Homo sapiens: one gene and its partners. The gene in region 6 interacts genetically with the main gene of each other region. Each region holds a gene or a part of one and is shown on either strand. Other genes may lie near its edges.

Region 1 (4,479 bases), on a different chromosome or scaffold from region 6:
TCAAGTGATCCGCTCACCTTGGCCTCCCAAAGTGCTGGATTACAGGCGTGAGCGACCACGCCTGGTCCATAGGTTTACTTTTGATGGATAAAATTCAGAAGCTATGTTTTGTAAGACCTTATTTCTAAAATTAATTTCTGTGATGCTTGACAACATCCTGTATAAAATAGGTACATTCCTGATGAGCTCTTTCCCATCAGCCAGTGCTAAATTATGTCTCAGCTGGTTCTCAGTATTCTTGCAGCAGAGTATTTTCTCCTTACAAGTGGAATGAATTTAGCTTATTAGACCCTTGCAGATTTTTGAGTACCTGACTTACAGATTTTTAATAGTAGATAGTTGACTATTAAATTCCTTTTTCCAGTTTCATAGCAGTTTATTTCATTACTGCTTGGAAAAGTCTTTACTTATGTTAATATATGATTTTAACTTATTTATGTATAATCATCAGATTAACATTTGTAATTTTGGGAGCGTTCTTTTTACTTTAGTGAGTGTACATTTGTAGTAAAATTCATGTTGACCTTAACTTTTGCCAGGTTACTTGGAGTGATATAGCAGGTTTAGATGATGTCATTACGGATCTGAAAGACACAGTCATCTTACCTATCAAAAAGAAACATTTGTTTGAGAATTCCAGGCTTCTGCAGCCTCCAAAAGGTATGGTAAAGGTATATATTCGCCTAAAGCATTAAAATCCTAGAAAACATTGAAACTTTCTGCCATTGTAGAACTAGTTTTTGTGAAATCAGATTCTCAAGAGGATGCTGAGATCTATGTGAACAGTTTCTTAAAATAATTGCTCATTCTTCAGCTTCTGAAATTGAGATAAACTTTTTCCTGTATTTACATGTTAAAATACTTGTTAAAATAATCTCCTTCAATTTCTTTTCTCTTACTTCCAAGTAAATTAAAATTTGGAAAATCAAGATTAAAGAAAGATTCAAAGTCATAATACAAGTTTTTTGTTTTGTTTTGTTTTGTTTTCAAGCCAAGACATTTTTTTCTTGTTTCACAGCTCCAACGATCTTATTTTTAGAATGTAATGATTCTTTTTCAGGAAATATTTATCTGCAGATGAACTAGAAATTAAATATTTAACTTTGATGGAGATGTTTGCTTATTCAAAATCACTTTGAAAGTCTTGGAACTCAAGAATTGAATATGCTCATAACTGCATCATTAAGTGTAATTCTTGTTCATTCAAATCTTTCTTTTTTTTTCTTTTCTCTCTTTTCTTTTCTTTTTGAGATGGGGTCTCACTGTGTCACCCAAGTTGAAATGCAGTGGCATGATCTTGGCTCACTGCAACTTCCGCCTCCCAGGCTCAAGTGATCCTCCCACCTGAGCCTCCTGAGTAGCTGGGACCACAGGCATGTGCCACCACGCCTGGCTCTTTTTTTATATTTTTGGTAATGATGGTGTTTCACCATGTTGCTCAGGCTGGTCTTGAACTCCTGAGTTCAAGTTCTTCACCTGCGTTGGCCTCCTAGAGTGCTGGGATTACAGGCATGAGCCATTGTGCCCAGCTAGTGCACATATTTCTGTCATGCTTAAGGCTTGTTAAAGGTGATTCAGATGGAGTGTAAATAATTTACAGTGAGAGATATATGTGTGTGTTACTATGGCGTTCAGATCCAAATTTCACGAGATAGCTTATTTTCATCTAGCAGAAACTCTTATCTAATGCATTGCCAAAACTATATGGGTTTGATATGTTGTTAGTCAAGACTTAAATTATTAGTCACATTGATTTTTCAAAAAAGTGGATCTTTAAAAATATCAAAATAGCATTATGTATGTTTAAATTATAATGCTTATAATCTTTCTAAATTTGCAGCTATATCAATAAAGTGCATTAATTTACATATCAAAGGTAACTGAAGCCTGTACCTGTGCATTTTTATGAACTACATAATTTTTGTTTCTGGTAAGTGGAGGATGACAGTTAACAGCAAAAATGACATGTTCTTTTATTATTAAAACAACAAAGCTATTAGGTATTTCTTTTTGTTTTCTGAAATAACAACACTGCTTATAGTTTTTCCTAACAAAACACTCAGTTTATTGTGATTTCCCCCCTGCCGCAAAAAAAACTTTGAATGATTATTTGAGCCCAGATCAAAAATGTATGGCTATAGTTGGATTAGTTAAGTCTTTACTACCCTCTTCCAGGTTATTTGTAGTCTGAACAAAAAATGACTTTTCTGCATTTTTAGTTCTCAATTGGACAATGCTAGTGAATTTAGGAAAGTAAAATACCTTTTATATGCTGTTGGAGAAAGCTTCTTTTTTTATCAGTGTTATCTTAGACCAGGTAATTGGGTGATTTCTCCAGTTGGACTTGGTTTAAAGACCCATTTAGCAGAGTGGATACCAAATTATGCAGGGAATACTTCAAAAGTTATATGTAAATTTGCTTCTTATTTGAAAGCATTGTCCAATTTAAAAGTTACATGAATATTTTCTGATTATATAAAGTTTTGCTATTTGAACTTTTTCACCTTTATGTCTGGACAATTTTTAATCAAGAATAACAGTTTTGAAGATCATTAATTTACTTTTTGACCCTCAATATAAATTGGATATTGGTGTATAGAAGCAGAGTGTAAAATCAGATGCATCCTTGTTTGTTCCATTTTGGGACTGGAACTAGGTTACCTAGGTTAGAGTTATTGACAATTTTATGTTATCCTTAGACAGTTTATTGCTATCTGAGCTGAAAGTGATCACTGCTTCACACAGACTACAAAAAGATAATTGGAGAGTGACTGCAGTATCCATGCAGTGCATGAGGTCATATGTAACTATTGTGTATAGATACAAAGTTGAAGCTAATGCACACCATGATGCCGCTAATTGGTGACAGGGAAATGGGGGCACACATAAGATATTGACGGTTATATTTAAAAAGTGATTTTTTTCCCTCAAACGTCTAAAAATTTACAACAGTTAAAATTCCAACAAAATCCATCTGAATACCATATGGCTTCCTCTGTAAACTTTCTGAATTCTGTATTGTTATTTTGGTATATAAATTTTATTACATTTGTGAATGTTATACTTCATGTTTTGGTGCATTCTTTAAATTGTGAGTAACCTAAGGAAAAAAATAATTTTAAAAATAGATTTTCTGTTATAAAGACCCATATTCTTCTCAAGTACTTTATATTTAAGTAGATTTAATTTATATAGATGTGTATTTTTGCACCATTTGGACAAATTTTATGTTAAAGCCAATAAACAGTTGTCCAAAAAAGAAAAATAGTCACTAATAAGGTGGAATATTTGTCACAAATGAGGATTATCTCAAATTTAGATTTGTGTATCCCAATACTTTTTTTGTTCTTATCCTTTTTTTTGGAGACAGAGTCTTACTGTCACCAGGCTGGAGTGTGTAACCATAGCCCACTGCTGCAGCCTCCTGGGCTCAAATGATCCTCCTGCCTCTGGGTCCTGAGTAGCTGGAACTGCAAGGCATGTACCACCATGCCTGCCTAATGTTTTAATTTTTTGTAGAGACAGGGTCTCACTTTGTGGCCCAGGTTGGTCTTGAATTCCTGGGCTCGTTATCCTCCTGCCTCAGCATCCCAAAGTGTTGAGATTACAGGTGTGAACCACTGTGCCCATCCTCTTCCTAAATCTTTTATTTGCATATAGCACTTACTAAGTAAAGCCATTACCAAAAACATCCGTCTTAAAAAGGAGTTTAAATTTTTAAGCCTCTATAAAGCTTAAGATAATAAACACAGTTTTTATTTGTTGAAGTTGGTTATAAAAGTATCAGATTAAGCTCAAAGAACTAATTTAAAGGTTGCAAAGCTAATAATAAAAGCTAAATGCCTCACATTCATTGCAGTACTCATTTGTCACCCATCGTAATTATTATCACTGTGGAGACCATTTTAGGAAAGTATATAGAAAAGGTGCCACTCTAAATAACGTTATCTCTAGACTCACTGATAATTTGTCAGACAAGCCAATCTGAATTTTAGTGTAACTTTTTTTTTTTTTTGAGACGGAGTCTCGCCCTGTTGCCCACCCTGGAGTGCAATGGCGCAATCTCGGCTCACTGCAACCTCTGCCTCCCGGGTTTAAGAGATTCTTCTAACTCAGCCTCCCCAGTAGCTGGGATTACAGGCGTGCACCACCATGCCTGGCTAATTTTTTATATTTTGGTAGAGTCGGGGTTTCACCGTATTAGCCAGGATGGTCTCGATCTCCTCACCTCGTGATCTGCCCACCTCGCCCTCCCAAAGTGCTGGGATTACAGGCGTGAGCCACAGGAATGGGGATAAAGCAGTTTACTGAATAACTATAAGGCTAACACACTTATGTAACTACTACCCAGGTCAAGAAGGGAATATTGACAGCTTGTGTACCTTCTCTGTTACAGCCTGTCCCCAGAAAGTTAGGATAGCCACAAGCTTTCTTTGCATATTGAATCTTTAGGCACTCCAGACACTCATAACTGCTCAG
Region 2 (3,872 bases), about 11 Mb from region 6:
GCTTATGGGGGCAGGTTCTCCCGACCTCCACAGTCCTCTGGCTCCTGACCTTCTAGGCCAGAGCAGGCACCAAGCAGGGCTGCTTCCCAGGCCAAGCCCCGCATTGCAGCTCCCCCTACCTTCCCCTCCATCCTCTGCTCTTCCAGGGCTGCCAGCCGGGCCTCTTCCTCCTTTTCTGAACCAGCCTCTGCATCTTCCTCCTCCTCCTCATTTTCTCCCTCTTCATCACCATCACCTTCGTTGTTGTCGTCCTCTTCCTCCTCCTCTTCTGACTCATTCAGGTTTCCTAGAGAAAGCCAATGTCCTCTGAATGCCCTGGGAATCTACTGTCTCTCTGGCAGGGTGACAACAGGCCCAGGCCCCATCCTCTCTGACCCTGCCGTCTTTAGCCATGGGCAGTTCAGGGATGTCCCAATTGTGGCCCTCTCTTGCACCTCCCCACAGCCCAGCTGCCATCAGAGGAAATTCCAAGACCCCCAGTCCTGAGCTCTGTCGCCTCCAATGTAAACTCTGATGACAATGCAGCATGTTCTTCTGCTCAGTCATCCTGAACGTCAAATAACACCTGACCCCAGGAGGTAGATGTCCCTTCTCCTAAGCCTTATTCTACAGGTGACTTCAAAGGGCTTTCTGCTCCTACTGCCTGTTCCCTGGAGCTTTCCACCTTGGCAGCTAAGGGAAACAGCCAGCGTGGGCCCAGGGGTCAAGGCCAGCCCAGTCCCATCCCGCTCACCTGGGTCCTCTCCCCGCTGCAGAGCCAGCAGCTTCAGCTTCTCAGGTGGAACGTAATCTCCTTCCTTCTCGGTCACAAAGGGTGAAAGGTGTGGGGGCAGCTGCACCCCAGAGAAGTACTCTGCCACGGGGAGAAGGAGCCTGGCGTTCACTGAGTCAAACACCCACTGGGGCTGCACGTAGCACCTGGCGCAGAGTGGCAGGCAAAAACGAGTCACAGAGGGCAACTCAGGGTCCTGCTGCATCGCAGGGCCTTTGAGACAGGATACCCAGAAATCCGGACGAGGACCCTTGAGGGCCTACCTGCCAATGACTGAGGTCTGCTGCCCAGGCCGGTCGACAATCTGATGGGTGATGCGGGAGTCTGTGACGTCATAGGTGGCCCCAATGCACAAAGATTTGTCCCAGGACACTTCCCCACCAAAACTCCTACAGGGACAGGGAGAGCCCACACGGGTACACAGACATGAGCTGCCTGTCCTGAGACTCAGCTCCCTGGGACCTGCTGGCCACCCAGCCCATAAACTCACCCTCTTAGGACACAATTACCCCCTCCTCACCCCAGGATCCTTCAATCCTGGCTCAGCAGAGATCTGCCCACTGCCCATCCTTCTGTGCTAAGCTAGTAATAAAATGACGGCAGTTCCGCCCTCTGCTGAGCACTTCCTATGTGCTCAGTGCGGTGCCGAGCACTTTCCACACACTGTTTCATAAGAAGTGGAAACTGACACCATCCCAATGTTACCGATGGGCACCAGGGCAGGACCCAGACCAGAGCATGGCCGAACCAATGCTGTCAGCGGGCCCTTGAGCCTCCCTACCTGATGATGAAGGCCAGGGCCTCACGGGGCACCTCTCGGTTCAGGAAGAACTTCAGGCCCTCAAAAAGCTTCTTGTGCTTCTCCTGCGCCTCCAGCTCCTTCCTGCGGTCTTCCTCCTGCGCTGACATCTCCTGTTGAGAAAGGGGCCAGGCCTCGCACCACCAGGGCTGCCCACCCCCACTGGAGGGCCAGGGCTGGAGATAACGTCCACTCCAGCTTCCTTCTAGATCCTGGATCCTGCCTTCAAAGGAAACTCCAAGGCCCCACTCCTGAGCTCTGTTGCCTCCTATGTAAACTCTGATGACAATTCAGCCCATTCTTCTGCTCAGTTGCTTTGACCATCAAATAACACCTAATTATAGGATGCAAATGTCCCTAAGCTGGGAAACCCCCCACACGACCCCTCCCAGCCCTCCTGCCAGAAGGCAGTGCAGTGCTCACCCCATCGGTGGGAAACTCATCCACCTCGGCCTCCTCCTCTGTGGCAGGCACCACCACGCGGGCCAGGCTGGCACTGAGGGCTGCCAGTTTCTACAGGAGAGAAGGGGGCTGCTTGCAGTGGGGGACCTCATGCGGGCATGTGGCCAGGGTGGGGAGGGGCAGCAGTGACAGTCCTGGGCATCAGCAGGTGTGGGTTCCAAGGGCAGGCTGAGACCACCCACCTAGCCATAACCACCCCCACTCTGAACCAGACCCCCAGAGGTGTTGGGGACAGAGACCACTCCCTTGGGAGATGCCGGATGATGCTCCTGGAGCCTCTCACCTCCATACAACTCTCGGAGTCCAACGCGTAGGTGCCCTCACCGGCCTTTGCCTCTGCTTGGGCCTGACCCTCGAGCTAGTAGGCAAAGGGAAGGTCAGGAGGCAGAGGACAGCCACAGCCCCTCGCCTCTGTGTGGACAGAGAAGGGCTGTGGCCCCTGCACGGCGAGCAGAAGGCACTGGGCTGGGGTCCTACCTTCGGGGGATAGTGGAGGTTGAGCAACTGGTAAAGGCGGAAGTTGACAAAGCCCAGCAGCGTGGTGTAGAACTCGGTGAAGGTGGCCATGACCCTGTAGTCCACGTCTGTCGGGTGCTGGGGAACACAAGAGATGCATGAGCAGTGTGGGTGCAGGGATGGGGGCAAAGGAGGGACAGACAACCCACAGAGTGGAGGGTGTCTGACCTACCCAAAGACCCCAAGCTCCTCAAGAAGGCTCTGCCCTTAAGGCGCTGCCCTAGGGAAGGGGTGGCATGGATCTTCCCACCAGGGGCGTTCCGGCCACAAGTGTTCCCAGCCACAAGTGAGGCTCTGGATAGGGGTCCCAAGGGTTAGACGCATCCTGGAAGTCAGTGCCAGACCCCCATAAAAGAGTGAGAAAAGGGACCCTGGTCCCTGCTGCTCCGAAGACTGGCTGGCCCTCCCCTCCCTGCTCCGGCTCTCCCACTTCCTTCAGGTCTAGCTCAGACTCGGACAGACCACTTTCCGACCTGGCCAGAGCTCCTGCCTTCTACATCACCTAGTCTACAATCTTTGCTGCATGTCTGCTGCTGGGCTAGCGTGTGAGCACCAGAGGGTGGTGCTCCCAGCGCTGTCTCTAGCCCAGAGGGGCTGGCAAAACCTTGGCTGACTAAGGTGCCTTGGGAAGGCCAGGCCCAGCGGGGGCGGGGGAAGCATGGGGCTCAGGCCGCCCACTGAGTCCCACCTCTGAACCTTGGGATGGACACTCAGAATTGAGTGACTCCCTCCTTGGGCCCAAGCCAGGTCCAGAGGCATGACCCGAGGGGCCAGGGTAGGCTGGCAGCTGGCCTGGCTCAGCCCCCAGGGAGCTCTTGGGAAATGGCCAGCAGACAAAACTACTTTTTGCTCAGGGAAAAGGCACAGAGCTGTCATCCCAGCAGCAGGGGACACAGAAGGCTCATCTTTGCCCTGGAGCAGTTAATAGGGCAAAACAGGGCAAAGAACTGAGGCCCAGACAGAATCACAACTCTTGAGCAGTTCTGCCCCCTAAAACCATGGAGGCCGAGCCAGCCCATTTGGCCCCCAGGACGCGGCAGGATGTTCCGAGCAACGTGAAAATCAGTAGTGATCACCATGGGTGCCGGGTGTGCCCATGACTCTTAGCTGTTCCGCTATTCTGCTGCCAGACAGTGACCTGTGCTGTGAGAGCACATAGGGCCAAGAGAAGCCCTGCCTGTTCCCTCACTCACACCGCCATCCTTCCATGAGAATCTGTGAGGGCCCCTGACAGGCACATCTGGGGACCAACCCCATTTCCCACAGCCCAGCACTGAGCAGGGAGACCCCGCCCCTACAACCAGCCTGAGTTCCACAGCTATG
Region 3 (4,089 bases), on a different chromosome or scaffold from region 6:
CACCTGCAGAATTATTTAGCAACAAATTCTAGTGCATACAGTACAGTTATCCTCTGGGAAGTCTCTGAATTAAGAAAGTCAGGTGGGGCCAGGCACTGTGGCTCATGCCTGTAATCTCAGCACTTTGGGAGGCCAAGGCCAGAGGATGGCTTGAAGTCAGGAATTTGAGACCACCTGGCCTGTCTGTGTAACAAAGATGTTTAAATTAGCCAGGCATGGTGGTGTGTGCTTATAGTCCCAGCTACTTGGGAGGCTGAGGCAGGAGGATCACTGACCCCAGGAGTTTGAGGCTGCAGTGAGCCATGGACATGCTACTGTGCTCCAGACTGGAGTGACAGAGCGAGACCCTGTCTCCGTTTTTTGTTTTTTTTTTCCCGAGACTGAGTGTGCAATGGTGCAATCTTGGCTCACCGCAACCTCTGCCTACCGCATTCAAGCAATTCTGCTGCCCCAGCCTCCCGAACAGCTGGGATTACAGGCATGTGCCAACACGCCCGGCTAATTTTGTATTTTTAGTAGAGACGGGGTTTCTCCATGTTGGTCAGGCTGGTCTCAAACTCCCGACCTCAGGTGATCCGCCCGGCTCAGCTTCCCAAAGTGCTGGGATTATAGTCATGAGCTACGGCTCACGGCCCACCCTGTCTCTTTAAAAAAAAAAAAAAAAAAAAAAAAAAGGAAGGAAGACAAAGTCAGGTGGGGTCTTCGGGGAAGGCTGATTGAAGGTGAGTTTTGAGCTGATTTTTTTAAAGGGGGAGGGAGTCCTAACTTTTTTTTTTTTAAACAATAATTGTACAGCAGGCAGTTTAGTTAAAACCACAACGGCAGCACTTTGGGAGGCCAGGGCAGGCAGATCACTTGAGGTCAGGAGTTTGAGACCAGCCTGGCCAACATGGTGAAACTCCATCTCTACTGAAAATACAAAAATTAGCCAGGCGTGGTGGCGGGCACCTGTAATTCCAGCTGCTCGGGAAACCGAGGCAGGAGAATCGCTTGAACCCAGGAGGCGAAGGTTGCAGTGAGCCGAGATCACGCCATTGCACCGCAGCCTGGGCGACGAGTGAAACTCCGTCTGAAAAAAAATACCACAGCAGATGCCAAAACTGAGTCACGCTGCCTTTGGCTTCTCCAGGGCCCCGATTTCCTCATTTCAGTTGGATGGACCAGTTGACTGTAATACTGATAAAAGGCATGTTCTGTCACTGGGGTGTTGGCACAGCTGGGGTTCACCCTGTCCCAGAGCTCTGGCTAGGGTGCTGGGAGTGACTGGAGCTGAAAGGGAGGCTTAGGACTGTGACCCTCCCAGGATCACAGAGGCATTCAGAGAGTGGAAGGGGCCTCTGGGACACAGTATTAGGAAAGTATTAGGAAAGAAGCATTTCTCACCCTCTTCTCTGCCCCTCCCCAGAGCTGCTGCCCAAAGGGAGCAAGGAGGAACAGCGGGATTACGTCTTCTACCTGGCCGTGGGGAACTACCGGCTCAAGGTGAGGTGGGGACCCCGTTCCCTTCACCCTCCTCTGGGGCTGCAGGACCTTCTTACTGTGTCCTCCAGGGTGGAGCCCTGGACAGCGGGAAGGCTGAAGGGGTGCAGAGGTGCAGAGCGGTGTCAGATGAGGACTCCGAGGGAAGATCAGAGTGGCGAGGGGGTGGGGAGGAAGGTGACGTCAAGAGACTGGGTGCAGGCCCAAGCCTTGCGCTGTTATCTCCCGCAGAGTTGGGGTTGTTTGTGGACTCTACTCCGTGGGGTGGGGCTGGAGGGAGGGAGTGGGTGGAGGTCGAGGGAGGAGCCCCCAGGGCTGAAGAAGGGAAGGCCCTTCACGTGGGCAGGGGGAGTGGTGGATACTGAGGTGTAGCCGGCCCAGTGGCTCACGCCTGTAATCCCGGCTACTCAGGAGGCTGAGGCGGGAGGACTGCTTGAGCCTGGGAGTTTGAGGTTGCAGTGGGCTGTGATTGCGACGCTGCCGTCCAGCGTGGGCAACAGAGCAAGACCCCGTCTCTTATTAAAAAACAAACAAACAAAAAAACACTGCGGTGTGTATGACGCGTGCGCGTTTCCCCGAGCGCAGGAATACGAGAAGGCCTTAAAGTACGTCCGCGGGTTGCTGCAGACAGAGCCCCAGAACAACCAGGCCAAGGAACTGGAGCGGCTCATTGACAAGGCCATGAAGAAAGGTGACAGCCTCGGCCCCTTTGTTCAGCCCCGCTCTTCCCCACGCCTGGGCACTTTGGTCTCTCTGTAAATGAACCCCTCCAGGCAGCCCCTCAGCCCCACCCCTTCCAGTTCTTAGAGCCCCTTGCCCTGCGACTCCAGGTAGGGGTGTGCCTCTGTTGAGGGGCAGGGCTGGCGGAAGGGGACGGTCAGGGTTTCCGCAGGGGCCGGGCTCCTGACACTGTCCCTTTCCTTCCCCAGATGGACTCGTGGGCATGGCCATCGTGGGAGGCATGGCCCTGGGTGTGGCGGGACTGGCCGGACTCATCGGACTTGCTGTGTCCAAGTCCAAATCCTGAAGGAGACGCGGGAGCCCACGGAGAACGCTCCAGGAGGGCCTGTCCATCCTCGCTGTCCTTTCCCTGTTCTCCCCCTGCCCCCCGTCTCTATCCTCTGTGGCCTTCAGCTAATTTCTGCTCCCCTGAGATTCGTCCTTCAGCCCCATCATGTGCTTTGGGATGAGTGTAAATAAAACGGGGCTGTGGCTTGGGAACCCCCGTGTCTGCGTTGAGGGGAGGGGTGGGTTCTGAACGCTGGGCACAGGGGGCGGAGACGTCACTCCTGGTCCTCTCCTGCCCCTGCCCTCCAGGTTGGCACGGGGTTCTTTGTCCACCCCGCAGCCCAGAGCCCACACCCTTCCTTCCTCCCTTTCCTGAAGCCATGTCCTTGAGAGTGCCGGGCAGCTCGGAGACATGGGGCTTTTCCATGGTCCCAGAGTCCTGGGAGAAGGCAGTGACCTGAGCATGGGCGGGCAGAACTTCGGGGCCAGGCCGGGCTTCAGGCCTGCATTCTCCTCTGACCCACTCAGCTACTTCTGTGGAGTTTTCCACAGCAGGCCCCCTTGGCTTCCTCCTCCCCACCCTCCCCTCCCTTTGTCTTCCTGTGGCCTCCCCTTCCTCCTACCTCCTCCTCTGGGGGAGGGGGAGCCCAGTAGGGGAAGGAATCCTGCATCTGGCATGGAGTAGGCGGGGGTCCCGGGAGAGGTCAGAGCCCAGGGAGCCCCAGCTCTCGCCTGTGGGCTGGAAGGTCAGGACTCAGCCCCACCTAGCCAGCTTCGCCCCCTCGTGCCAGGCTCGGCATGGGCCTGTTTTGCTTCACCGCATACCTCTCGTTCCACAGCCCAGGCCAGCACAGGAGTAGGGAGGAGACACCTGAGGGGAGGCCGGAGAAGCCCAGCAGGGCCGTGGGGCCAGGGAGGTGCGCAGCCAGCGCTGATGGCCCCCAGGGACAGAGCCCTAGGGAACCGGAGCAGGAGATGAGAGTGTCTGCTCTGGGACAGGTGCTCTGCACTGGCTCGGGATGGGGACCAGAGGCTGCTAATCCATCATCATTAACGAATAGAGTGGGTGACAGTCCCTGATAACTGGGAACAGGTTGCAGAGCTTAGCCACAGGATCACGCTCCAGGCTGTTGGCCAGCAGGACCAGGCTCGATGCTGAGTCAAAGATCAACTTAGGAGGAAATTTGAGTTTTGGGTGAGAGCGACTCCCTGGTGGCCTCAGCCCTGTGACACTCACATCCAGGACAGTTCCCGGTGCCAAGCGCTGGTTATGTGTGGGGGGCTTGACTCCCTGGTCCCAACGAGGTCTCAGTGTGTTGCCCAGGCTGGTCTTGAACTCCTGAGTTCAAGCAATCGTCTCAGCCCAGCCTCCCAAAGTGGTAGGATTACAGGCGAGAGCCACTGCGCCCGGCCCCTGGTCCCAGTTCTCACCACAGCCCCTGCAGTAAGCAGTCGGGTATGTCACTGACAGAGCAGAAGCTCAGGGGACTAAAACTCCCCGCCTGAGTTCCCTGGTGAATGGATGGTGGGGCCGAGTTCCATTCCAGGCTGGATGGAGCCCAGAGCTGTGGGTCTCCTACCCTCCCATCCCCTCATTCCAGC
Region 4 (4,479 bases), on a different chromosome or scaffold from region 6:
CCACCCCCAGCACAGGGCCCGCCTCAGCCTAAGCCCAGGGGTAACTGAGCCTCACCACCAAGACGTGTCTGAGGCTCTGCAAATGGGATGAAGCACTGAGCCAACAGGCGAGATGGACACACACAAGCCACAGTCCTTCTGGGACAGACTCTCTGGGAAGAAACTCCAATCGTCCCTTACACCTGCAGGTGTGCTGGGCTGCAAGGAGGGCAGGTGCGCACAGGCTGGAGGAAGGTGGGGGTGTCTGTGTGATACCCTCAAAGGCTTCCATGAGGCATTGTGCAATGCTGAGATCCTGAGGCCTTATCAAGCAATCAAATGAACCAGAGAAAGCTGGAAAAAGCCTCAACTTAACTCCTTGGTACCATGCTGTCCATAGCTGTCGCTGAAAGTGTCCTTTGGGGGTATGAGCCAGCTCTTCCAGCAACAGCAGGCAAAGGTGGGGGAAAATAAGTAGTGCTGGAGGGCTCAAAATGGTACGAGACTGGGTGCTTCATTCTCTTGGCAGTGGCCAGGGGGCAGGAGCCACACGTGCCCCTGGGGGAGCCCACATGGCACTTAGGGCTGGCAGCACCGCCCCTCTCCACGCAGACTCCGCCTCAGGTGCCCACTATCTGCTGGGCTGCAGGTACTGGTGTGTGAACATGTTGAGCTCACTGTCCAACCAACCGGCTTTATTCCTGCAAAGAAATGGTTCTTTTGTAACCATGATAGCTGATGATAGGCAGTATTAGGACTACCCGCCAGGCACCATCCTAAGGACGCTTGACACACACCCTTACATCATCCTCCAACAATCGTGTTTATCCCTGTCTCACAGATGGGGAAAAGGAGGCCCAGAGGGGTTAAATAACTTCCCAAGGCCACACGGCTAATAAGCCAGGGAGCTACAAGTTAGGCTTTTCTGATTCTCAAGCCCTGTGTTTCCTTCACCCAGGACCATGTGCAAGTCCCTGAGCTGTCGGGAACTCAGTTTCCCTGCTTGCCAAGCAAGGGGTTGAGGTGCTGACAGGAGACCCTTTCCAGGTTCAGCTGTGTCACTGTGGCTGACAAGCAGCAGTTCCCCCCATTCCCCCTTTCTGAGAGTCCCCAGAGGGCAAGCAGTGTGTCCCTAGGAAGCAGCTGTCCCCAGGTGGGGGTGCGGGGGGGGCACATCCGCAGTCGAGGGCAGGGAAAGCCCAGTGATCCGGTGAGGGTTGGAGCTGACACCCTCTGATCCATCTCCCCTCTGGCTCTGCCACCCTGCAGACTCTGACGTCAGGGGCGAGGGCAGGAAGTGCAGGGTCCCCGTGTGCTGATGCTATCATGGGCTAGGCAGGCCGAGGACTTCTGCAGGGTCCCCGTGTGCTGATGTTATCATGAGCTGGGCAGGCCGAGGACTTTTGCAGGGCACTTTTACATTCAGTCATGCAGCTGTGTCATGAAATCTTACTCCCATTTTACAGATGAAAATAATGAGACACAGGAGAGTTAAGAGCTTGGGCCAAACATGAGTGGCTGGAGAGAACCCAGGACTCCAGACTCCTCAGACTGATGTTCTTTCCAGCAAATTATTAATGAAAGCTCCACAGAGACCCCATGGAGATCTGAGTTCCAATCCCAGCTCTGCCAGTCCCCAGCCAAGTAACCAGCTTCTCTGTGGGTAAATGGGGGGCTATGCCCTCTTCATGGGTCCAAAGAGTGGCAGGTAAGGAGAATCAGAGTGCGGGGGCTGCTGGAGCCAAGTACACCTGGGCTCCCCTCCTAGCCTGGCCATTTTTTGAGATGCCAGACAAGTTCCCCAACATTTCTATGTAGAAAATGGAGAAATAGGGAAGACTGAGTGAAATAGCACATGTTAAGCGCTGTAGGCCCTGCGGTTCAGCACAGGGCGCTGTGAACTGCAGTCTCGCAGTACTGTGATGCCATCATGCCTTCAACTGCAAGTGCCTTGAAGGCAGCGACGCTGTGTCTTGTTGAGCCTCCAGCACCATCTGGCATCCATGAGGTACGTGGTACACATCCATTTTTTTTTTCTTTTTGAGACAGAGTTTTGCTCTTGTCGCCCAGGCTGGAGTGCAATGGCATAATCTCGGCTCACTGCAACCTCCGCCTTCTGGGTTCAAGCCATTCTCCTGCCTCAGCCTGTCGAGTGGCTGGGATTACAAGCACACACCACCACGACCAGCTAATCTTTGTATTTTTAGTAGAGACGGGGTTTCACCATGTTGGTCAGGCTAGTCTCAAACTCCTGACCTCAGGTGATCTACCTGCCTCAGCCTCCCAAAGTGCTGGGATTATAGGCGTCAGCCACCGTGCCCAGCCCATGGTACACATCTAACACGAATGAGCTAAATCCCCACCAGAAAAATTTGTGTCCACACCCAAGACGCAAGCCCAGCAGCTGAGCCCCAGTGTGCCTGGGCTGCACCCTGGAGCCCTAACCTTTGGCCACACGGGCCAGCCTCACCTGAGCAGCTTTGCTTTGCTCTGAAGTGAGTCAAGAACCTCAATTTTCTTGTTCATGGCGGCAATTTCCTGCTCCAGGTTCTCCCGGGTGACGTCAACTTGCTGACACAGATGAGCAAAGGTCCCAGACAGTTCCCTGGGGAGGAGAGAGAAGGGACCCAGTTGGGGTGTGTGGAGCAAGATGCCACTGGTGGCTTAGCCCACCCACAGTAGGGAGCAGCTGGGCCTGTCTATATCCCTGCCAGCAGCTCTGCCCTGAGCCAGGCCTGGTTTGGCAGAATCTCCTACACCCTGCTGAGACTGAATAATCATAACAACCAAACACACTCAGCATCACCACGGCCTGAGAAGCAACAGCACAGAGCTGTGCACCCTGGTTTGGGCACAAGAGATCCTGACTCTGCTGCTCATCAGCCGAGTAGCAGAGGACACGTCACTATTTTTCAAATCTCAGTTTCTTGATTTTGAAAAAGGAGATGGCCCTCTCCCTCTCCCGCTCCCTCTCCCTCTCCCCACGGTCTCCCTCTCCCTCTCTTTCCACGGTCTCCCTCTGATGCCGAGCCGAAGCTGGACTGTACTGCCGCCATCTCTGCTCACTGCAACCTCCCTGCCTGATTCTCCTGCCTCAACCTGCCCAGTGCCTGCGACTGCAGGCGCGCGCCGCCACGCCTGACTGGTTTTCGTATTTTTTTGGTGGAGATGGGGTTTCGCTGTGTTGGCCGCGCTGGTCTCCAGCTCCTAACCGGCAGTGATCTGCCAGCCTCGGCCTCCCGAGGTGCCGGGATTGCAGATGGAGTCTCGTTCACTCAGTGCTCAATGTTGCCCAGGCAGTGGCATGATCTCAGCTCGCTACAACCTCCACCTCCCAGCCGCCTGCCTTGGCCTCCCAAAGTGCCGAGATTGCAGCCTCTGCCCGGCCGCCACCCCGTCTGAGAAGTGAGGAGCGTCTCTGCCTGGCCGCCCATCGTCTGGGATGTGAGGAGCCCCTCTGCCCGGCTGCCCACTCTGGGAAGTGAGGAGCACCTCTTCCCGGCCGCCATCCCATCTAGGAAGTGGGGAGCGCCTCTGCCCCACCACCCCGTCTGGGATGTGAGGAGCGCCTCTGCCCAGCCACAACCCCGTCTAGGAGGTGAGGAGCGTCTCTGCCCGGCAGCCGCCCCGTCTGAGAAGTGAGGAGCCCCTCCGCCAGGCAGCCGCCCCCGTCTGGGAAGTAAGCGTCTCCGCCTAGCAGCCGCCCCGTCCGGGAGGTGGGGGGTCAGTCCCCGCCCGGCCAGCCGCCCCGTCCGGGAGGGAGGTGGGGGGGGTCAGCCCCCGCCCGGCCAGCCACCCCGTCCGGGAGGGAGGTGGGGGCGCCTCCGCCCGGCCGCCGCCCCATCCGGGAGGTGGGGGGCGCCTCTGCCCAACCACCCCTTCTGGGAAGTGAGGAGCCCCTCTGCCCGGCCACCACCCCGTCTGGGAGGTGTACCCAACAGCTCATTGAGAACGGGCCATGGTGACGATGGCGGTTTTGTCGAATAGAAAAGGGGGAAATGTGGGGAAAAGATAGAGAAATCAGATTGTTGCTGTGTCTGTGTAGAAAGAAGTAGACATAGGAGACTCCATTTTGTTCTGTACTAAGAAAAATTCTTCTGCCTTGGGATGCTGTTGATCTATGACCTTACCCCCAACCTGGTGCTCTCTGAAACATGTGCTGTGTCCACTCAGGGTTAAATGGATTAAGGGCGGTGCAAGGTGTGCTTTGTTAAACAGATGCTTGAAGGCAGCATGCTTGTCAAGAGTCATCACCACTCCCTAATCTCAAGTACCCAGGGACACAAACACTGCGGAAGGCCCCAGGGTCCTCTGCCTAGGAAAACCAGAGACCTTTGTTCACTTGTTTATCTGCTGACCTTCCCTCCACTATTGTCCTATGACCCTGCCAAAACACCCAAGAATGATCAATTAAAAAAAAAAGAAAGAAAGAAAAAGGAGATGGCTATAAGACAACATCTACCTCCAAGAGTCAGAGAAATAATTAGGTGCAAAATGTCT
Region 5 (4,479 bases), on a different chromosome or scaffold from region 6:
GATTTTTTTTTTTTTTTTTTTGTAGAGACAGGGTCTCATTATGTTGCCCAGGCTGGTCTCAAATTCCTGGGTTCAAGTGATCCTCCTGTCTCAGCCTCCCAAAGTGCTGGGATTACAGGTGTGAGCCACTGCACCCAGCCTTTTTTTTGAGACTGGGTCTTTCTCTGCTGCCCAGGCTAGGGTGCAATGACACAATCATAGCTCACTGTAACCTCCAACTCCGGGGCTCAAGCAAGCCTCCCACCTTGTTCTCCCAAAGTGCTGAGTTTACAGGCGTGAGCCATCATGCCTAGCCTGTTCTTTTTAAAAAAATCCACACTGCTCTCCACTGTGACGCCGCCCTGCCCATGCCCCTGACTACACTTCTCCCCTCTCCTCCCGCTCCCCTTCCCCAGGTGGACCTCCTGCGCTCTGCTCACCTGCACCCGCTACTCCTTCTGGCGGGAACTCTTCCTCCCTTTTCACCTGGCTGCTGCCTCCTTTCCTTCAGATGCTCCCAGCCTCCAGGTGCTTCCTCTGGGCTCACACAGCCCCCTGTGTTCCCTCACTCCTGCCTTGGTCACGCCGCCCGTTTCCCCACCGCGACTGACACTGCCCCACGCTTCGAAGCGCACAGGCCGCGTGCCTCTGGCTTCTGCTTCCTCCCTCGCTGGACAGATCACTCCGCCTGCGCCTCCCACTTCCCTCCACAAACACTCTGGGCCGTCAGTGTCGGCAGATGGTTCCGTCACCTCCAGGGACTGAGATCGTTTCGAGTCCCCCCCAACCCCGCGCCCCTAGGCAGAGCGTGGTCTCCGAGGCTCCACTGTGCCCCCAACATTTCCTCCCGGCCTTGGAGCCCTGGAGCCCGGGACCGGGCCCGCGAGCCACGCACCTACATACATGACGGTGCCCCGGCGAGGGGATTGTCCCGCCGCCCGCACCTCACAGCGGCTGCCCACGGGGATGGAGCTGGCCTGGGCCTTCTCCTCGGCCAGGCGCTGGGCGGCCTCGGCCTCCTGCTGAGCCCGCTCCTCCTCGTTGTACCGGCCGAGCTTGCTGCGCTTCAGGAAAGAGCGGACCGTGTCTGTGGGCAGAGGGGGCTGGGGTCAGTTGGGGTGTCGGCCGGGCCTAACAGGATGACGCTCCACCCACGAGGGGCCCACGTTCACGGAGGAACTCTCTCTTCCAGGTGACAAAGGGCTGTCACCCAAGCCCCAGGTCTCCCACCACAGCCTTAGCCTCTCCCAGGACTCCTAGGCCCCCCAACTCCACAATCGTAAATGGAAGGGGTGCCGCCTGCACCCCTCACTACAGGACCCATGGTCTCTCACCCCTTCAGCGCACATCTGCCTTCATCATCCGCCTTCCTCCTCCGCCCTCCTCCGGCCCTGAGGCCCCCGGTCTCCCCCAACACTCGATCCGTCCCAGGCGCCCTCACTGACCGCCACCCTGTCCACTCGCATTCCACCTGTCCTGCCCTCCACACCCCGTCCGACCGCCCCATGCCCCCATCTGACCCTGACAACACCCAGCCCCCACACCTACCCCTCAACTCCCTCCACTTTCCCAGCCCTCCCCCGACCACGTCTGACTGCCCATACCCCTGACACCTCCCGGCCCTCATTCCCACCCCAGGCCTCCGTCTGTCCCCACTCCCAGCCTCACCCCTATATCCTCCCAAGCTCTCGGCCCCCCGTCTACACCACTGGCCTCCCTGCAGGGGCCCTGTCTAACCTGCCCGCCCTCATACCTGCACATACTCCCTCTGGCCCCCACGCACCCCTCGACGCCCACCTGCCCGTACCTTGCCTCTGGTCGTAGGCTTCTTGTGAGATCGTGTACTTCTCCACCCGGGACACGTCCTCATACTCACCAAGGCGGGCGCCACTGTGGTCAATGACCTGTGTGAGGGGAGGGGCTCCGTGGGGATCAGGGTCTGGCCAGGGAGGCCTGGGTGCTGGGTGCAGGGACTTCAGTGTCTCCATCTGGGAAAAACGCATCTCCCTCCCTCGCCTGTACTGCAGCCTTCTCTTCTCTCCTGAGCCCAGCGGAAGGGAGAAGTAGCTACGTACACTGGCCACCTCCCCTTCCTCACCCCCATCCAAGCTCCCAGAGGCTGCCTCTGTCCCCAGAAGTTCCCCGCTTGCTGGCATCAACATCGCCAAGGGCCCCAAAGTCACAGAGTCCAACCGGCAGAGCTCAGGCCTTGCCCACAGCCCTGTGCACAGCGCATCTCCTCGATGGGCCTCTGGGACTCTCCTAAGCTGGCCCCAACCTCAGGCCCCAGAGCATCTCTTCCTGTTCTGCCCCCACTATTCATTCATTCATTGGTTTCCGAGCTCCCAGGGGCCCAGCTGGGCCTCATGCTGGGGACTCAGTGTAAACACAGACGCACTCTGCCCTCAGGCTGTGCTCATTGTGCAGGGAGAAGGCCAACCACAAACAAAGGAACAGGTACCTATGAAACACTGGAGGATGGCTATGGAGAAAAATATGACAGGGAAGAGGCTTAAGGAGCATGGGAGGGTAGGCTTCCCAAAAGAGGGGATGTTTCAGCCAAGGCTGGAAAGATGAGCAAGAACGGCAGGTGCAGACGGCCAGAGGTAGAAATGTCCTTCACGCTCTAGAGTGGGTGGTGCGGGTGGGGTGGAGCGAGCCAGAGGGAGAGTGGAAGACACAAGGGACTGCTGGAGACTTTGGGTTTTTTTTTTTTTTTTGACGGAGTCTCGCTCTGTCACCCAGGCTGGAGTGTGGTGGTGTGATCTCAGCTCACGGAAACCTCTGCCTCACTGCAAATTCAAGTGATTCTCCTGCCTCAGCCTCCCGGGCAGCTGAAACTATAGGCACACACCACCACACCCGGCTAATTTTTGTATTTTTAAGTAGAGACGACATTTTGCCATGCTGGTCAGGCTGGTCTAGAACTCCTGACCTCAAGTGATCTTCCCACCTCAGCCTCCCAATGTACTGGGTGGGATTACAGGCACGATCCACCGCACCTGGCCTAGACTTTGGTTTTTATCTGGAGCGAAGTGCCACCAGGGCAGGGCTCTGAGCTAGGAGGGCCCTGGCCTGACTCAGGTGGTCCCAGGCTCCCTCTGGCTGAGATGGGGAGCGGGGAGGCCAGGGAGGAAGCTGCCGGGATGGCGAGGTTGGGGGAAGGATGGAGGCTGGACCAGGGTCAGGGAAGTTTTTGTAGGTGGAGCCGAGAGGATTTGATGAGAGTGGATGTGGGGGTGAGGGAGAGAGCGGGCCCAAGGAACACCCTGAGGTGTCTGGCCTAAGCCACTGGGCTAACATGGCAAAATAGGAATGGCCTTTACCTCCGGATGAAGCGTCACTGAGAATTTCTGTTGAGAATTTTCACAAATTTGAAGTTCTGTTATTTTAAACAATGAATATGGGTGATATTTATAAAGAGAAAAAGAATTTTAGAAAATGTAAAAATTCCCCAGTGGCTCCACTCTGGAACACCTTCCTTGAGTGGCCTGGGAGGTCTGTGTGTACCTGAACCGCCTGTTATGAAACCTGCTCAAAGATGCCACTGCCTATGAGGTGCCTATGAACACCCGCACCCCTTAGCTTCAGCTGCCCAGGGTGGCCCAAAGGCTCAGTCCTGTGCACCCAGCAGAGGCCTGACCCACAGCTCCAGACCTCGTCCCCTCATCAGGACTCTCACAGCAGCCCCTTCCTGGTCTCCCTACTCTTCCTGTCCTCCACCACCTGTTCCCCACACACAGCCAGAGGGGGCCTGTGAACACCTGAGCCAGGTCAGGGTCCTCCCCAGCTTCCACAGTGTTTGGCCACAGAAGTGGCCTGTCTTAATCCCCACCGCGCTCCCTCCCACCTTGGAGTGTTTGCTGGGTTGTGCCCCACTCCTAGGGCACCCCTTCCCCATCTTCAGTTAACCTTTTTTTTTTTTTTTTTTTTAAAGATAGGATCTCACTCTATCATCCAAACTGGAGTGCAGTGGTGTGATCTCAGCTCACTGCAACTTCCAGCTCCTGGGTTCAAGTGATCCTCCTGCCTCAGCCTCCTGAGTAGCTAGGATTACAGGCATCTGCCACCACGCCCAGCTAATTTCTGTATTTTTAGGAGAGACGGGGTTTCACCGTCTCGAACTCCTGACCTTAAGTGATCTGTCCACCTCAGCCTCCCAAGGCACTGGGATTACAGGCGTGAACCACCATGCCCGACCAATTCTTTTTATTCTTCTCGTCTCTGCTCCAGCAGCACCACCTCCAGGATGTCCTCCCAGACGTCACTGATGCATCAGGTACCCCAGGATAGGGTCTCCCAGCTTCATGATCTCCTACACAACCCTTGTCTCCCCTGACCCTTCACATTCAGTCCTCTGGCCATTTAGCCAACATCTGCCTCATACACTAGAACTTCTCAGATGCAGTCATAATGAAACCCCTGGCACAACACAGATGGGGAATGAACAGTTAATCAACGAGAGAAAAAAGAAGCAGTTCTCTCTAGAGTCATGTAGAC
Region 6 (4,479 bases):
TAATACCACTATGTAGGAATGTAGTCTGGTGAGATGCTGTTTTTCCCAGCAGGTTTAACTGACTGAATACTTAAGGTGCCCAGATTGAAATGCAAAGCTCCAGTTATCCCATATGGAGACTACACTAGAAAGCCCCAGCAGCTTTATTTATTTACATTTATTTATTTATCTATCTATTTATTTATTTATTTTTTGGGACGGAGTCTTGCTCTGTTCCCTAGGCTGGAGTACAGTGACGCAGTCATCTCGGCTTACTGCAACCTCTGCCTCCTGGGTTCAAGCGATTCTCCTGCCTCAGCCTCCCGAGTAGCTGGGATTACAGGCACCCACCACCATGCCTGGCTAATTTTTGTAGTAGACAGGGGTTTTCACCATGTTTGTCAGGCTGGTCTCGAACTCCTGACTTCAGGTGATCCACCTGCCTTGGCCTCCCAAAGTGCTGGGATTACAAGCATAAGCCACCACCCCTGGCCTATTTACATTTAATTATGATTTATTTTTCCTATCCTTCTGCAAGCATATATATATATATATATATATATATATATATATATATACACACACACACACACACACACAAAATATCAAAATATATATATATATGTATATATATATATATTTTTTTTTTTTTTTGAGACTGAGTCTCGCTCTGTTGCCCAGGCTGGAGTGCAGTGGCACGATCTCTGCTCACTGCAAGCTCTGCCTCCCGGGTTCACTCCATTCTCCTGACTCAGCCTCCCGAGTAGCTTGGACTACAGGCGCCCACCACCACGCCCAGCTAATTTTTTGTATTTTTAGTAGAGACGGGGTTTCACCGTGTTAGCCAGGATGGTCTCGATCTCCTGACCTTGTGATCCGCACGCCTTGGCCTCCCAAAGTGCTGGGATTATAGGCGTGAGTCACCGCGCCCGGCCCAAAAAATCTTTGTGTTTTTTTGTTTGTTTGTTTTGTGTTCAGAGAAGGGATCTGGCTAGGTGCCCTGGCTCATGCCTGTAGTCCCAGCACTTTGGGAGGCCAAACCGAGAGGTTGCTTTTCAGGAGTTTGAGACCAGCCTGGGCAACATGGTGAAATCTCGTCTCTACAGAAAATACAAAAATTAGCCGGGCATGGTTGGCGCACACCTGTGGTCCCAGCTACTCAGGAGGCTGATGTGGAAGGATCGCTTGAGCCTGGGAGGTGGAGGCTGCAGTGAGCTGAAATTGCAACACTGCACTCCAACCTGGGTGACAGAGCAATACCCTATCTCAAAAAAAAGAGAGACAGAGTCTCGCTGTGTTGCCCAGGCTGTTCTCAAACTCCTGACCTCAAGTGACCCTCCCACCTTGGCCTCACAATGCACTGGGATTACAGGCATGAGCCACCACAACCGGTCTCAGCAGCTTTCTGTTTGTCAGATATACAAATATACCCCAGGCTCCAGGCCCCCACATCCCCCAAAAAACACACACACACACACACACACAGCATCAGAGACCTGAGAAGGACATCTTGGTGGAGGTTTGGGGGAATGGAGATGGTTCCTTTTATTTTTTTATAGTGGTGGTGTGGTGGTTTTTGTTGTTTTGGTGTCTAAATCAGAGCATCACATGGCCTTGAAGGTTTGGAAAGGAGGGGCCATAGTTCAAGAACAAGCAGTAGCTTCTTGGGAACGTATTGGAGAGAGAAAAGAGAAAAGAATATGGACAATGTAGAGAATTGTAGGTCTGAAACTATCTGGGACAAAGCTGAGGCTCCTGACTTCTATAGGGACCAGTCATATGAAAAAGAAGGGAGTCGTGAGAGATGATGGGGTAGTTGTGGGTTAAGTTGGGTTTTGGAAAGCCTTTGGGAAGATTGACCAGGGAAGAGGCCCTGGAAGTAGGCTTGAGACCCTTTGGGCTGGGAATTTAAGGGTCCCAGCTACTTGGAACATGATCTAGAAAGGGAAGCGAGGTCTCCAGGTGGACAAATCCCTTTGGACCCAAGACTCCTTGCCCAGAGAAAAGGGGCACAACCAGACAAGGGCTAGCATGGGCCCTGGGAAGCACGGAGTTCAGGGTGGGGCAGGCTTGCTGTGTCCTGGCCTGGCAACATACCTGCACTGTGTTGTGGTAGAAGAACACAAAGCTGGGAGGCAGAGAACTGGTTCTAATCCTAGCTGTACCCTGACAAGCTGTGTGACCTTGGCCAAGTTACTTTCCTCTCCTGGACTTCATATATGGTTTTTCCATTCTTTGCATCCCTGAAGCTCCATGACTTAGGGGCCATCAACTTGGTTGTCCCTGAGTGTTTCCAAGAATACCAACAGTGCCCAGGGTTTTACTCAGCTTGGAGAGGAGGCCTAGAGCCTCCCTGTGGTGAGGAGGAAAGAGGTTAGAGCAAGTTTGGGTCTGCAGTGCTAGGATTAGAGGTGGCCTCACAAGCCAAAACCGCTATACTCACAGCCTTAGGACAGTGACTCCCTACTCGCTGCCTCAGTGTTTCCAGCTGTAAAAAAGGACCCTTGGTACCTTCGACAGAACAGCACCCATCTAGTACAAAGGTAGTTCCTTTTATGATCAAAACAATCAGGAAAAAGAGAGAGGCTGGGTGCGGTGGCTCACACCTGTAATCCCAGCACTTTGGGAGGCTGAGGTGGGTGGATCACCTAAGGTCAGGAGTTCGAGACCCACCTATCAATATGGTGAAACCCTGTCTCTACTAAAATTACAAAAATTAGCCGGGCATGGTGCCGTGCACCTATAGTCCCAGCTACTCAGGAGGCTGAGGCGGGAGAATCGCTTGAACCCAGGAGGCAGAGGTTGAAGTAAGACAAGTTCGCGCCACTGCACTCCATCCAGCGTGGGCGATAGAGGAAGACTCCGTCTCAAAAAGAAAAAAGAAAGAAAATGAGAGAAAGGGCCTGGAGGTGAGTGTGAGGAGGGAAAAGAACATCAAACAGATAAAGTCCTGTCCTGTTGTCCTGGGACCTTGGGCAGCCATCTTGGCCCAGATGATCCCCACAAGAAAGAGGTAAGGGTTTCCTGACCCATTTCTGCCATGGTCTTAGGAAAGTCATTGAGTTTTCATGCCTTAGTTTCTTAAGCAAGTTTGAAAGTTCACTTTTTGGATAGCAATAAAATTACTCCTTTTCTTTTGTTCACAGAGATGCTGCAATTTGTCAGTAATCAAGTGGGAGAGTTCCCTGACTTGTTTTCAGAACAGCTGTGTAGCTCCTTTCCTGGCAGTGGTGGTAGTGGTAGCAGCAGCGGCAGCAGTGGCAGCAGCAGCAGCAGCAGCAATGGCAGGGGCAGCAGCAGCGGAGCTGTGGACCCTTCAGTGCAACGGTCATTCACCCAGGTCACATTACCTTCCTTCTCTCCCTCGGCGGCCTCCCCACAGGCTCCAACTCTGCAAGTCAAGGTTTCTCCCACCTCAGTTCCCACCACACCCAGGGCAACTCCTATTCTTCAGCCCCGCCCCCAGCCCCAGCCTCAACCTCAAACTCAGCTGCAACAACAGACGGTAATGATCACGCCAACATTCAGCACCACTCCGCAGACGAGGATCATCCAGCAGCCTTTGATATACCAGAATGCAGCTACTAGCTTTCAAGGTGATTCAGAAGTTAGAATGGTAGTGGTTGGTTGGTTCCAATGTTTATGTGCCAGTTTGCAGACACTGTAAATATTTCTGTCGTCTTCAGGAATGGCAGGTATATCAATATGGTCCTGTCTGAATGAGGTTCTGGTAACTGGCAATAAGAACTGGTACAGGAGCATGTCACATTCTGCAGCTTCAAATACCTTAATATCTATTGCGCCTAATTCAAAAATACTTGGTTAAAAAATCCAGCAAGCGGCCGGGCGCGGTGGCTCACGCCTGTAATCCCAGCACTTTGGGAGGCCAAGGCGGGCGGATCACGAGGTCAGGAGATTGAGACCATCCTGGCTAACTCAGTGAAACCCCATCTCTACTAAAAAATAGAAAAAATTAGCCGGGCATGGTGGCGGGCGCCTGTAGTCCCAGCTACTCGGGAGGCTGAGGCAGGAGAATGGCGTGAACCCGGGAGGCAGAGCTTGCAGTGAGCAGAGATCGTGCCACTGCACTCCAGCCTAGGCAACAGAGCGAGACTCCCATCTTAAAAAGAAAAAAAAAAATCCAGCAAGCATAGTAGACACAGGGCCATTCTGATAACTAGTGGTGGAGACTTGAATAAGGCTTGAAATTGGCTAGGCGGCAGCCAGATCTCAGCTGCCACAGTTGAGAACTATTCATTCAGCAAACATCTGAGCATCCACTATGGTGATGAATATGACTTTTAATATAGGTGCAGCAGCTTCAAGTAGCAAGCCTCATGCTGGGCCCTTAGTATGTGTTGAGGGAATGGATGACTGAAAGGGGCCTGTTCTTTCTGTGATGTGCTGCATCCCAGTGCCTTTTCATCATATTTCCCTCTGACTCTGTGGGGAGCCCAGGGTAAGATTAGTATTGCTTTGAATTTCAAAGAATCTTATAGT
Region 7 (4,479 bases), on a different chromosome or scaffold from region 6:
CTCTGAGCTACCCTTAAGAGTCATTCTGTCCTTTTCTTGAAGGTGAACTTGCAGCCAACTAGCTCTGTTGGTCTGTCTTCTGCTAGTAGGATCCCAGAAGTCCAACAACCTTCCTTCTTTTCATCCCATTTCTGTTCCTTTCAGTCAAAGCTGGAAGTGATTCTGCTGAGATGATTGATTGGATTCATGAGTCACATATCTAATCTCTTCACCAAGAGGTTTTCTAGCCATACTCTGGAGCACACTATCTGGATAGGCTAAGAATTTTCCAAAATCATCAAGTCCTGGTTTATTTTTTTTTCCTTTTTTTTGAGACAAGGTCTTACTTTGTCACCCAGGCTGGAGTGCAGTGGCATGATCTCGGCTCACTGCAGCCTTGACCTCCTGGGCTCAGCCCCCCAAGTAGCTGGGACTACAGCCACGTGCCACCATGTTTGGCTAATTATTTGTATTTTTTGTAGAGATGGGGTTTTGCCATGTTGTCCAGGCTGGTCTTGAACTCCTGAGCGTAGTTTTTTGGTGGACACAGGTGGATTGCTTGAGCGATCTGCCTGCCCTGACCTTCCAAAGTACTAGGATTACAGGTGTCAGCTACCACACCTGGCTTCATGTCTTGCTTTCTTTTTTGCTTTTCAGTTCCTTGCTCCATTTCTCTCTTTCCTCTCATATTTTACTGTAAGTAACAAGGAGAAACCAGGATGTCTCTTCCGCACTTTGCTTGGAAATCTCCTCAGCTAAATATCCGAGTTCATCCCTTACAAATTCTACTTTTCTCCCAACAGTAGACCGTAACTTAGCCAAGTTCTCTGTCACTTTATAACAAGTAACATCTTTTCTCAACTCTGTCTGAGACATCACCAGAGGAAACATTCATATTTCTGGCAAAATCCATCCATGACAACATATGTATTCTGTAAATAATAGAAGTTTTCTTTACAGCTCTCATCTCTTCTGAGTCTTCATCACAATTGCCTTTCATGTCCCTATTTCTACCAATGATCTCTTCAAGGCAATCTGGGCTTTTTCTGTCAAGCACTTCAAAACTCTTTCAGTCTCTACTCATTACCCAATTCCAAAGCCACTTTCATATTTTCAGGTGTTTGTTGTAGCAGCAACCCACTTTCTGGTGCTATAATCTGTATTAGTTTCCTAGGGCAGCTGTAACAAATTGCCACAAATTGTGTGGCCTAAAAAAATAGAAATTATTCTCTCACAATTCGGTAAGCTGGAAGTCCAAAATTCAGGTGTTGGCAGGTTTGGTTCCTTCTGGAGATTCTGAAGCAGAATCTGTTCTTTGCCTCTCTCCTAGTTTCTGATGGCTACTGGCAGTCCTTGACACTCCTTGACTTCTACACATATCACTCTAATCTTTGCCTCCATCTTTACGTGGTGTTCTCTCCTGTGTTTTCTGTGTCCAAATATCCATTGTCCTATAAAGACATCAGTCCATTGGTCTTAGGGTCTAACCCTAATCCGCTATGACCTCATTTTAACTTGATTCCATCTGCAAAGACACTTTTTCCAAATAAGAGACTGGGGCTCAATATATCTTTCTGGAGGCTATAATTCTATCTGCTACAGATAGTCAATACTTTCTCCTGAAAGATAAAAATTATAAAACTATACAAACAAAACAAAACAAAAATGACAATAATGGCCAACTATTGTATATCAATCTAACCCAGGGTCCCTATATTTTAACTGAACTCAAATTTTTTATTATGAGATTTTTATCAGACTGTCTTTATGACAAAATCTTATTTAAATCCACATGCAAAAAAATGATGCTGGGCTCTTATATCATTTGTAAAAATTAACTCAAAATGAAACAAAGACCTGAATATATGAGCTAAAACTATAAAACTCTTATTAGAAAACATAGGGGAAAAGCTTTATGACATTGCAGTTAACAATAATTTCTTGGATATGACACCACAAGTATAGGCATCAAAGGAAAAAAAAAATTGGACTTCATTTAAATTGAAAACTTCTGTACATCAAAAACTGTTGAAAAGGCAACCCACACAATGGGAGAAAATATTTGCAAATCACGTATACACTAAGGTATTAATCTCCAGAATATGTAAAGAACTTCTACAACAACAATTTAAAACAATCTGATTAAAAAATGAACAAAGGATTTGAATAAGCATGTCTCCAAAGAAGATACACAAATCGTCAATAAACAAATGAAAAGATGCTCAACATCACTAACCATTAAGGAAATGCAAATCAGAACCACGAGATACCGCTCTATTCCCATTATGACGGCTCTTATAAAAAATAAAAAAATTACAAGTGTTGGCAAGGATATGGAGCAACTGGAACCCTCGTGCATTGCTGGTAGAAATGTAAAATGGTGTAGCACCTACGGAAAAACCACATGGCTATTCCTCAAAAAATTAAACACAGAATTATCATATGATCCAGTAATTCCACTTCTGGGTATATACCCAAAAGAACTGAAAGCAAGCACCCGAACAGATATATTTGTATACTCATGTTCATAGCAGCATTATTCACAACAGCCAAAAGGTAGAAACAAATCAAATGTCCATTGACAGAGGAATGGCTAAACAAAAATGTGGTACATACATACAATGAAATGTTATTCAGCCTTAAAAAAGGATGAAATTCTGACACATGCTACACAATATGGATGAACCTTGAGGTAAAGTAAACCTTAAGGCTAAGTGAAATCAGTCACAAAAGGACAAACATTGTGTGATTCCACTATATGAGGTATCTAGAGTAATCGAATTCATAGTGACAGAAAGCAGAATGACAAATAATGGTGATAGTTACACAACATTGTGAATGTACTAATGCCACAGAACTGTCTACTTAAAAATAGTTAAAATGGGAAATTTGATGTATGTATCTTTTACTACAAAAAAAAGTAATGGGCTTCTATGCAAATTATGAGAATGACAGAAATTTACCACTGAACTTGATTTTATCAATGTTTACGACCTCAGGTCAATAAAGTATCTTTGAGGCCGGGTGCGGTGGCTCATGCCTGTAATCCCAGCACTTTGGGAGGCTGAGGCAGGTGGATCACTCAAGGTCAGGAGTTCGAGAGCAGCCTGGCCAACACGGTGAAACCCCATCTCTACTAAAACTACAAAAAATTGGCCAGGTGTGGTGGCACACTCCTATAATCCCAGCTACTCAGGAGGCTGAGACAGAAGAATCGCTTGAACCCAGGAGGTGGGTGCAGTAAGCAAAGATCGTGCCATTGCACTCCAGCCTGGGCAACAGAGTCAGACTTCATCTCAAAAAAAATAAATAAATAAATAAATAAAGTATCTTTGAATGTTTTCTGTTTCACTAAATAACATCTTTACAAAACAAATAAATATATTACCTCTTGAATTTCTTTTTCTAATAGCTCCACTCTTTCTCGAAGATGTCTCCTCTCAGTGTCAATAGAAAGAAGTTCCAGTCGAACTGAGCTGCTTTCTCCCTCAGCTTGATGGGCTTTGACCTCCCAGTCTTCAGCACGGTTATGAAGCATCTGAAATCTATCTAACAAATCTTGATTTTCTTTTTCCTGGTTTAATCACAATAAAATTGTTTCTAAATTAGTAATTGTCACTTCCTGGAACACCTATGTCATAAACACATACACATACACAGCATTCTGTTCTAATTTAGGAAGCATTAGATATCTGTGCAGGTACCACACTAAAATCTATGGGAAAAATAGAAAAAGGCAGTAGACAAGATCTCTACTTTAAAATGTTTAATATCTAATTGTAGAGGCACATGAAAAAGTTAAAAAAAAAAAAAACCTCAGTCTTAAATCCAACCTAAATAATATTTTTCACCTTGGCAGCCATTAAGCTCTCCCATCGTGACACCTCTGTTATGTATTTATGAACTCTGCTCTTCATTTCTTCTTTTTCTTGCACTGCTGCTTCCAATTCCAATGAGATTTCCTACAAATCAGAAAATTAAAGACAATCTAAAATGAACACAACACCAAATAAATTTTATTTATATTCAAATAATTCCTTTGGAATTGGAGAATAAGATAGAGTAGGGCAAAAGGAAAACTGTTCCTAAGTGTTATTTTCACATATTTTTCCTGGCTGATCTTGCCTTTTAAAATATTTCAGACAGAGTCTCATTCTGTCGCCCAGACTGAAGTGCAATGGCGTGATCACAGCTCACTGCAGCCTCGACCTTCTGGGCTCAAGCAATCCTTCCACTTCAGCCCTCCGAGTAGCTGAGACCACAGGCACATGTCACCATACCAGCTAATTTTTTTTTTTAATTTTCTGAGATGAGGTCTCACTATGATGTCCAGCCTGGTCTCAAACTCCTGGGCTCAAGCAATCCTCCCACTTTGGTCTCCGAAAGTGCTGGGATTATAGGCGTGAGCTACCACGCCTGGTCTGATACTGACTTTTTAACCAAACTTTATCACACATTTCCCATAATAGTCCTGATCATGTATCTGGCATTTACACTAAA

The links.
Region 1: changes in SREBF2 (region 6) and ATAD1 together harm fitness less than expected from each alone (positive genetic interaction), as found in Homo sapiens cells (one large-scale study listed by BioGRID).
Region 2: changes in SREBF2 (region 6) and PES1 together harm fitness less than expected from each alone (positive genetic interaction), as found in Homo sapiens cells (one large-scale study listed by BioGRID).
Region 3: changes in SREBF2 (region 6) and FIS1 together harm fitness less than expected from each alone (positive genetic interaction), as found in Homo sapiens cells (one large-scale study listed by BioGRID).
Region 4: changes in SREBF2 (region 6) and MFN2 together harm fitness more than expected from each alone (negative genetic interaction), as found in Homo sapiens cells (one large-scale study listed by BioGRID).
Region 5: changes in SREBF2 (region 6) and TBCB together harm fitness more than expected from each alone (negative genetic interaction), as found in Homo sapiens cells (one large-scale study listed by BioGRID).
Region 7: changes in SREBF2 (region 6) and CEP135 together harm fitness less than expected from each alone (positive genetic interaction), as found in Homo sapiens cells (one large-scale study listed by BioGRID).

Annotation. Positions count from the first base shown.
Region 1 is NC_000010.11:87,786,491-87,790,969, reverse strand, and holds part of ATAD1 (outer mitochondrial transmembrane helix translocase), read left to right. Parts: intron 1-539; coding exon 540-660; intron 661-1,840; exon of another isoform or gene 1,841-1,905; coding exon of another isoform or gene 1,906-1,930; intron 1,931-4,479. UniProt on the Homo sapiens protein: Outer mitochondrial translocase required to remove mislocalized tail-anchored transmembrane proteins on mitochondria.
Region 2 is NC_000022.11:30,579,018-30,582,889, forward strand, and holds part of PES1 (pescadillo homolog), read right to left. Parts: intron 2,628-3,872; coding exon 2,511-2,627; intron 2,392-2,510; coding exon 2,317-2,391; intron 2,085-2,316; coding exon 1,995-2,084; intron 1,685-1,994; coding exon 1,554-1,684; intron 1,162-1,553; coding exon 1,036-1,161; intron 919-1,035; coding exon 734-918; intron 287-733; coding exon 120-286; intron 1-119. UniProt on the Homo sapiens protein: Component of the PeBoW complex, which is required for maturation of 28S and 5.8S ribosomal RNAs and formation of the 60S ribosome.
Region 3 is NC_000007.14:101,238,223-101,242,311, reverse strand, and holds the end of FIS1 (mitochondrial fission 1 protein), read left to right. Parts: intron 1-1,405; coding exon 1,406-1,482; intron 1,483-2,064; coding exon 2,065-2,170; intron 2,171-2,408; coding exon 2,409-2,506; 3' UTR 2,507-2,840; downstream 2,841-4,089. UniProt on the Homo sapiens protein: Involved in the fragmentation of the mitochondrial network and its perinuclear clustering. Plays a minor role in the recruitment and association of the fission mediator dynamin-related protein 1 (DNM1L) to the mitochondrial surface and mitochondrial fission.
Region 4 is NC_000001.11:12,007,697-12,012,175, reverse strand, and holds part of MFN2 (mitofusin-2), read right to left. Parts: intron 2,585-4,479; coding exon 2,450-2,584; intron 681-2,449; coding exon 611-680; 3' UTR 1-610. UniProt on the Homo sapiens protein: Mitochondrial outer membrane GTPase that mediates mitochondrial clustering and fusion. Mitochondria are highly dynamic organelles, and their morphology is determined by the equilibrium between mitochondrial fusion and fission events.
Region 5 is NC_000019.10:36,118,114-36,122,592, reverse strand, and holds part of TBCB (tubulin-folding cofactor B), read right to left. Parts: intron 1,884-4,479; coding exon 1,787-1,883; intron 1,067-1,786; coding exon 875-1,066; exon of another isoform or gene 420-874; intron 1-419.
Region 6 is NC_000022.11:41,863,706-41,868,184, forward strand, and holds part of SREBF2 (sterol regulatory element-binding protein 2), read left to right. Parts: intron 1-3,125; coding exon 3,126-3,575; intron 3,576-4,479.
Region 7 is NC_000004.12:56,010,874-56,015,352, reverse strand, and holds part of CEP135 (centrosomal protein of 135 kDa), read right to left. Parts: intron 3,942-4,479; coding exon 3,831-3,941; intron 3,554-3,830; coding exon 3,368-3,553; intron 1-3,367. UniProt on the Homo sapiens protein: Centrosomal microtubule-binding protein involved in centriole biogenesis. Acts as a scaffolding protein during early centriole biogenesis.